Linked DNA regions of Homo sapiens. The protein of the gene in region 1 purifies or fractionates together with the protein of each later gene. This does not show direct contact. Each region holds a gene or a part of one and is shown in the gene's direction. Other genes may lie near its edges.

What was found. Proteins that work in one complex are often made in the same cells at the same time.
Region 2: the proteins of SEMA7A (region 1) and PIGM purify together in Homo sapiens (affinity purification with mass spectrometry; one large-scale study listed by BioGRID and IntAct). This does not show direct contact.

The regions. Positions count from the first base shown.
Region 1 is NC_000015.10:74,416,959-74,420,458, reverse strand, and holds part of SEMA7A (semaphorin-7A isoform 1 preproprotein), read left to right. Parts: exon of another isoform or gene 1-165; coding exon of another isoform or gene 166-220; intron 221-1,506; coding exon 1,507-1,658; intron 1,659-2,149; coding exon 2,150-2,191; intron 2,192-2,489; coding exon 2,490-2,582; intron 2,583-2,783; coding exon 2,784-2,868; intron 2,869-3,013; coding exon 3,014-3,124; intron 3,125-3,500. UniProt on the Homo sapiens protein: Plays an important role in integrin-mediated signaling and functions both in regulating cell migration and immune responses.
Region 2 is NC_000001.11:160,024,453-160,028,467, reverse strand, and holds the end of PIGM (GPI alpha-1,4-mannosyltransferase I, catalytic subunit), read left to right. Parts: 3' UTR 1-3,515; downstream 3,516-4,015.

The DNA.
Region 1 (3,500 bases):
GTGAGCTCAGCACTTCTCTCTGTAGCCTGCCATGCTGCTGAGAACTGATACTGCAGCCTGGGACAAGCTAATGTGTCCTGCCTGCTGGTGTGACCTTGGCATGTCTCCCAGGGTACCTCAGCATTCTTCTCTGCACAGTGCGCCAGGCCACAGAAGAGGTGAAGAATGCTCACTTCCGGGGGTGACCTGGCCATGAAGGGATGTTTCTTAAAGAATGAAGGTGTGGTGGCACAGTGTGTGGTCCAGCTGCTCCTTGCCCCTGTTAAATGCAGAATCAATAGGGATGGCTCCAATGGGAATAAGAGGGATCGGGGGCAGAGTTGAGGAAATGGTAGTTCTTTTTGGTCAGAGCTGGAGCTTGGGTGTCACTGCCAAGCTGGCTGCCCCAGAGTTTCCTGCAGCTGAAAAAACAGTGGTCAGACCCAGTTCCTAGGTGAGGCCCAGGCTGGTCAGAGGTGGGAAGATGCTGGGTGTGGCTGATTGCTGGGGGCACAACCACAGGCCATCCCATCCCTATAATTTACTCCTGCAACCAGGACAACCTCAGCAGTGTCACTGGAGATGAGACACCTCCCCAGAGGCAGTGGCTGCAGTCAGTTTCTTTTTTGGGGAAAATTTTCCCGGTCAGCCCTTCTGCTGAAAGTCCCAGGCTGTGCTCTGTGAAGGTTCCCCTGTCCCAGAGTTGCTGGGGAGGAAGAGCCGATCTTCACCCCCCGGAGAGCTAGCATCCTCATGGGTGAAACCAGGCCAGAGTGGGCCATGGAATAGAGTCCAGCTTGGTAGGCAGGAGTGCAGGCTCTGGTTCAGGGTCTGCTACTGACCTGCTTCCGTGTGCCCTTGGGCTGCCCCTCCCTTGGCCTCTGTTTTCCCATCTGTGAAATGGGACGGAGTAGATGTTGAGATTCCTTTCCTCCTCTAGTCTAGTGCTCACTAAGGGGCTGGGGATGGGCCAGGAGAGGTTGGAGAGGGATTCCTGAAGGAGGAGAAGGGGTTCTGAGCATTGTGATTCCTGGGAACCTGGACTCCAAGGGGGGTGCTTGAAGGCCCTGCTGCCTGCTGAAAGGCCCGGGGTTGGGGGGCGCTGCTTGCTTTGGCTTAGGGCAGCAGAGAACCTCCCAGAGCATGGCCAAGGAGCCCTGGTCCTCCTGCCTTAGCCCAGCCCTCAAAAGTGTGTGCCAGAGGAGGGGGTCTGTTCCCCCAAGAGGTCCCTAAATCCTTCCCCACTCTGAGATCACACATACTGTGAAGGAAGGAGAGGCTGCCACACTAGGGGAGGGGCCGTGCTGTGGGTGAGGACAGCTGGTTGCTGGAGCCCACCGGAGGATCTCTTACTTCTCCTGTCCTTGACTCTCTGAGTCTGGGTACCACCCCAGCCCAGAGCTTGTCTGACGCCCTGCCAGGACCCTGAGCACCAAGCACTGGTTCCAGTGTGCCATGTGGAGGGGACCCAGAGTCTTCTCTCTCGGGACCTGGCTTCAATGTTTCTACTAATTGTCTCCTCCTCAGGCCATGTAGGGCAGGACCGGGTGGACTTTGGCCAGACTGAGCCGCACACGGTGCTTTTCCACGAGCCAGGCAGCTCCTCTGTGTGGGTGGGAGGACGTGGCAAGGTCTACCTCTTTGACTTCCCCGAGGGCAAGAACGCATCTGTGCGCACGGTGAGCCTCTCTCTTCCCCCAACACCCCCCCTACCCTCTTATCTCCCCTCTGGCCCTGCCAAGGGTCCTCAGGGAATCCGAGGGAGCTGGCTTCTCTTCCTAAACTGCCCCCACCTCCGTATCCTATAAATGGCTCCTGGGGGAGGCTCCCTAAAGGTAGTCCAGATTGGAGTGGGGAGCTGGGGCGGTGTGGAGAAAAACAGGAGCTAATGGGCCTGGCCAGCTGGGCAGCGCTGCTGCGGAAAGCCCAGGCTGGAAGCTGGGCCCCAGAGCCCATGCCTGGTCTTCTGAACCCTCTGGGCCTCAGCTCTGGATATGAGACCCTGTTTGACCTCAGGTAGATCACTCACCCTCTCAGAGCCCCAGTTGCTCATCTGTCAGATGAGAATAATGGTTGCTTCCTTTGGGGCTTATCCTGAGGCTGTGTGGAAAGCATTTCAGGGGTACCTCACCCCTGGCAGATTGAACTAATGCTTCTCCCCTTCCCCCAGGTGAATATCGGCTCCACAAAGGGGTCCTGTCTGGATAAGCGGGTGAGTGGGGGAGGGGGTATGGAGGGGTCTGAGCCACTTGGTAAAGGGAGAGGAGACCCTGAGGGTCTAAGGAAGGAAGCATGGCCCTGCCCCACGAGTCCCAGACTGATGGGGAGACGTGGTCCTCTGTGCTTAGGGGATGGCGTCAGCTGCACACACTCTGGGCTGTCCCGGGAGGCTGTCACCTATGCTAAGCCCTTCTGACACCTTCTTCCCTGATCCTGGGGGTCCTAGTGCTAGGCTTGCCAGGGCCTTCCAGCAACCAATTTCTCTCCTCCCTTCTCTCTTCCCCGGGCAGGACTGCGAGAACTACATCACTCTCCTGGAGAGGCGGAGTGAGGGGCTGCTGGCCTGTGGCACCAACGCCCGGCACCCCAGCTGCTGGAACCTGGTGAGAAGGCTGCTCCCCATGTGCCTGATCAGCTCACCTTCTACTGCGTGGGCTTCTGCCCCTCATGGTGGGAAGGAGATGGCGAGACTCCAATGCTGGCCTTGCCCTGGGAGGATGGGGCTCCTGGCCGAGAAACTGGCCGTCATGGGAGGCAGTGGCTGTGGGATTATGTGGCCATCCAACCCTCTGGATCTCCCACAGGTGAATGGCACTGTGGTGCCACTTGGCGAGATGAGAGGCTACGCCCCCTTCAGCCCGGACGAGAACTCCCTGGTTCTGTTTGAAGGTAGGGCAGTGCTGGAGCAGGCGCCCCAGGGGGATGCTTCTGAACTGGGCTGGGAGAGGAGTGGTCAGCTCTTTGTCCAGTGTCCGGAGGAGGGACTTCCAGGAGCTGCCTGCCCTTACTCATTTCTCCCTCCCACTGACCCCAGGGGACGAGGTGTATTCCACCATCCGGAAGCAGGAATACAATGGGAAGATCCCTCGGTTCCGCCGCATCCGGGGCGAGAGTGAGCTGTACACCAGTGATACTGTCATGCAGAGTGAGTCAGGCTCCGGCTGGGCTGAGGGTGGGCAAGGGGGTGTGAGCACTTAAGGTGGCAGATGGGATCCTGATGTTTCTGGGAGGGCTCCCTGAGGGCCGCTGGGGCCATGCAGGAAAGCAGGACCTTGGTATAGGCCTGAGAAGTTAGGGTTGGCTGGGAGCAGAGGAACAGACAAGGTATAGCAGTGGGATGGGCCCAGCCCTCTTCAGGAACACAAACAGAGGGAGCCCCAGACCCAGTGCAGGGTCCCCAGGAGCCAAAGTTTATCCTCTGCTGAGTTCACGTGGAGGCAGCCCCCAACTCCCTCCTCATCAGGGCTCTGCCAATTGAGCAGAAGTGACATAGGGGCCCCCAGGGACCTTCCCCCAGTCCC
Region 2 (4,015 bases), on another chromosome or scaffold:
TTTGGGGTAAAAATAGCAGAGTCAGTTGCTGAGGACAATGACCTTCCTTATAACATTTAGTTTCATACCCATATTAGGTCTTGTCTTGAGGACCCTTTATATGTGCTTGTTTACTAGTGGCCTTCCAGCCATAGCATTCTTACCTTTTTTTCCTATTCTAAGAATTAAAAAAAAAAATTATAGAGCCAGCAAGGGAGGAGGCAGGAAACAGAAATCGAATTTCATCATTCCAGTATAGTTGTCCCTTTTTTTGTATTTCTGACTTGGTTTTATAATTATATTTACTTACTAATTATTGTTTTTTAACATTCTTTATTGTGGCTTACTCTTCATACTTAGAATTGAAATTGTTGGACATCACATGTATATTCACATTATAAATACATCATTCTTCCACTGTTAGACCTTTAGATTGCTTCCAGTTTTTAATATTCTAAATAAGACTTTCAACATTTTCTGTGTTTTAGCTCATTCTCTTAGGACATTCTTAGAAGTTAGAAACATTTCTGCTGGGATCGTTGGAGGGAACTTCAAACTTTGGAATCTTTCCTGCAAGAAATTCTTTACCAAAGAAAGGCAGGTGTTTCTTAAAGGGATGCAAAAGATATTTTGCACTTTGTATGTTCCAAAACATTTAGTAAGTTAACTAAAAAAATGAGTTAATTTGGTTTCTTGGGGGATTTTAATTTTTTAATTTGTTTTCTGGTTATGTAAAAAAAATGTTTTTTTTTTGCTTCTTATCACAATCCTTTTGTTTCCTTTTTAATCCTTTAATAACACCTTCAAATTTTATAAGACTTTGGCTTATTTCCTATATAATTCTTTTTTTCTTATACCACCTCTTAAGATTGATATGTTCATTTGCAGGTAAGCATTAATTATTAGATAAAGAGGGATGATTCTCAAGATTGTGTGTGTTCTGAACAGAGGGAACTACATGACATTTTCTTCTGTAATTGCCTTTGTAACGTCTTTAGAATGTGGTTCCTAAATATTCCTGGATAAATTCTCTTGATAGGCCCATTGGAAAGGCTAATACTCCCACCCAGTGCTTTGTTCCTTCCTGGCAAAAGAATTCCTAAAACCACTGATTTTAGTTACTGACTTCTCACCATCTGGACTCTTACAAGATGTTTCAGAAGTTGTGTAGAACTTGTCTTTCAGTTGACTTGTGGCTGAATTTACTGTTACTTCTCTAATATCAGTTGTTTTCTGCATTACCACCCTCTCCCCTAACCATCTGTACTATGAATGGAAAAGGAAAAAGATGGAAAAATTATACCTAGGATTGTCCCTAAATGCAACCTCTTGGTTCCCCCCACCCCTCATGTTTTATTATAAACGATTTTAAGAGCTGGGCATGGTGGTTCATGCCTATAATCCCAATGCTTTGGGAAGCTGAGGCAGGAGGATCACTTGAGGACAGGAGTTTGAGACCAGCCTGGACAACATAGTGAGACCCCCATCTGTACAAAAAAAAAAGTGCTACTTGGGAAGCTGAAGTGGGAGGACCACTTGAGCCCAGGAATTCGAGGAGGTTATAGTGAACTATGATTGTGCCACTGCACTCCAGCCTGGGTGACAGAGCAACACCTTGCCTCTAAAACAAACAGCTCCAACTATTTTATTTTTTTATTTTTCTGAGACAAGATGTTGCTTTGTCACCCAGGCTGGAGTGCAGTAGTATAAACATGGCTCACTGCAGCCGAACTCCCAGGCTCAAGTGATCCTTCCTCCTCAGCCTCCCAAGTAGCTGGGACCACAGGTATTTGCCACCATGCCTGGCTAATCTTTATTTTTTGTAGAGACGAGGTCTTGCTATGTTGCAAGAGGGAGATCACTTAAGTGATCTTCCCTCATTGGCTTCCCAAAGTGTTGGGATTCCAGGCGTGAGCCACTGCACCCCGCCTGACCTAACTATTTTAAACACTACTCATATTGCCATCATCTAAATTCAACAACAATTTGCCATATTTGCTTTATGTATATGTATAATTATATATTTATAAAATTTTTTGAACCATGTGAAGTTGCAAACATCATTGAACTTCACCACTAAATATATCAGCATGCATCTCCTAAAAATCAGGTATTTTCTTACAAAACCATAATTCTGCTATCTATTATGATTTAACATTCTGTCATTTTCAAATTTCTTCAGGTGTTTTTTGTTACATCTTAAAGAACAGACGTTCTTGGATCTCAAAGATTCCGAGGAAGGAAAGAACATGGTGGATAATCCATAATTAAGAAGTTTGAATCTTTTCCTAGTCTTAAAAACAAAGTGAGAACTAAAGGGGTTTACCTTCCATCAAAGTTGAACAAATTAATTCTTTTGTGTGTCATACTTTCTGTCTCTCTCCCTAAAAACATGGGGGTGGTAATCTCTTTGTTTTATCTGGTAGGTTTTCCAGATAAAAGATTATACAGGTTTGGAATCTTAATATCCAACCCCCAACTCCAAGCCCTGCCCCAACAACAACAGCTAATTATTTTACATCTTGATGATGGTAAATTTTTCATGATTAACCAATTTTGGGCACCTATTCCGCCATATATGGTTTTATTTAATTTTCACAGCAACACTTCAAAGTTGATATTCATATTCTAAATTTATAGATGAACGAAGAGGCTCAAAGATTAAACAACTTGCTAATAAGTGATTTTTACCCATGCTTTTTCCATTATATTATGTTTTGGATTTTTCCAGAGTACCCAAACCCAGCAGATGCATACTGCTCCAAAATAAATGGAACTCAATACTGGCTCTGTCAAGTGTCTCTTGCCAATCAATTGTCCTTCTAATCTTTTGAGGGGCAGTTCTCTCAGTTGTACCAAGTCACTGTCATCCCCAAACTTTTCAATGATTCCAGGCCTTTAACAACTCCCCTCCACCTCCAAACCCTCTCTCACCAAATTGTGTAATTTCTTTGTTTACTGCTGGCTTCATCATGCACTTTTCCTTCATAGCCTATTTTAAGAAGTTGATTTGCTGAACTGCTTTTTAGCCAAGCTATTTGTAAATCAAGCTACACAAAGTATGTGGCCATAATTTCCAAAAGGCAAATGATCATTGTTCAATTGCTGTTGCTCTGCAGTGTGCATTCATGCAGTTAAAAATTGTACTGCATTGATAGTACGGCATCAGAGAATAGATCACTTAGGTTCAAATCCCAGTGCATGATCCTGAGCAAGATTATCATATCTAGATACATTAGTTTTTATCTGTGAAATGGGAATGATAGCACAATCTTCATAGAATTGTTGGTAAGGATTAAGTGAGTTGATATGCTCAAAGTGTGCATGCTGGCATAGAACAAGTCACTGTTTACAAGCCTTTAAAGAAGGAGCTGTTCTGGCACTGTAAACTTGAACCTTTTTTCCCCAAATCTAATGGATATAGGCAAGGAAATTATATTTATATAAAATAAATGTTTGACTACCTTTGATCATAAACTTTATTCTCATCTTGACCTGTTCCTTTGAAAAGATAATAAATACTGATATGTGAAAAATGTATGGACAGATTATTCAGATGTCTGGTTGAGGCTTTACAGTTTTGTATATTTCTGTCAGACATTAAGCTGACTCTAAGCAGTGGAGGTTTGGTTTATGCCCCTAAATTACACAGCACTTCTTTTCTCCATTGTATCGAGGGGTCATTCAGGGGTTGCTGTTCTGGAGATGGAAGCACATGTCTCCTGCCTGGGTCAGAAGCGTCACAATAGCACAAGCATTTATTCAGCACTGGCCTAGGAGAACCATTCATTTAGTCAAAACAAGCATTTATATTCATTATCCTGAACAAAAACCAGACTAAATGAGAACATTTATAGCTGCTCAGGCACTCTGCTAATTGCTATGTCTGCTAGACAAAGTGAAATGACACTTACAGTGACTATTTAAAAATAATTTGGAGCATGAATATTTGAAGCTCAGTTCTTTTTACAAAGGAAATGTATAACCTTTGCTCTTCATTTTTTTTGGCAGTTATTTATAGATCCAGGCCCTGTGT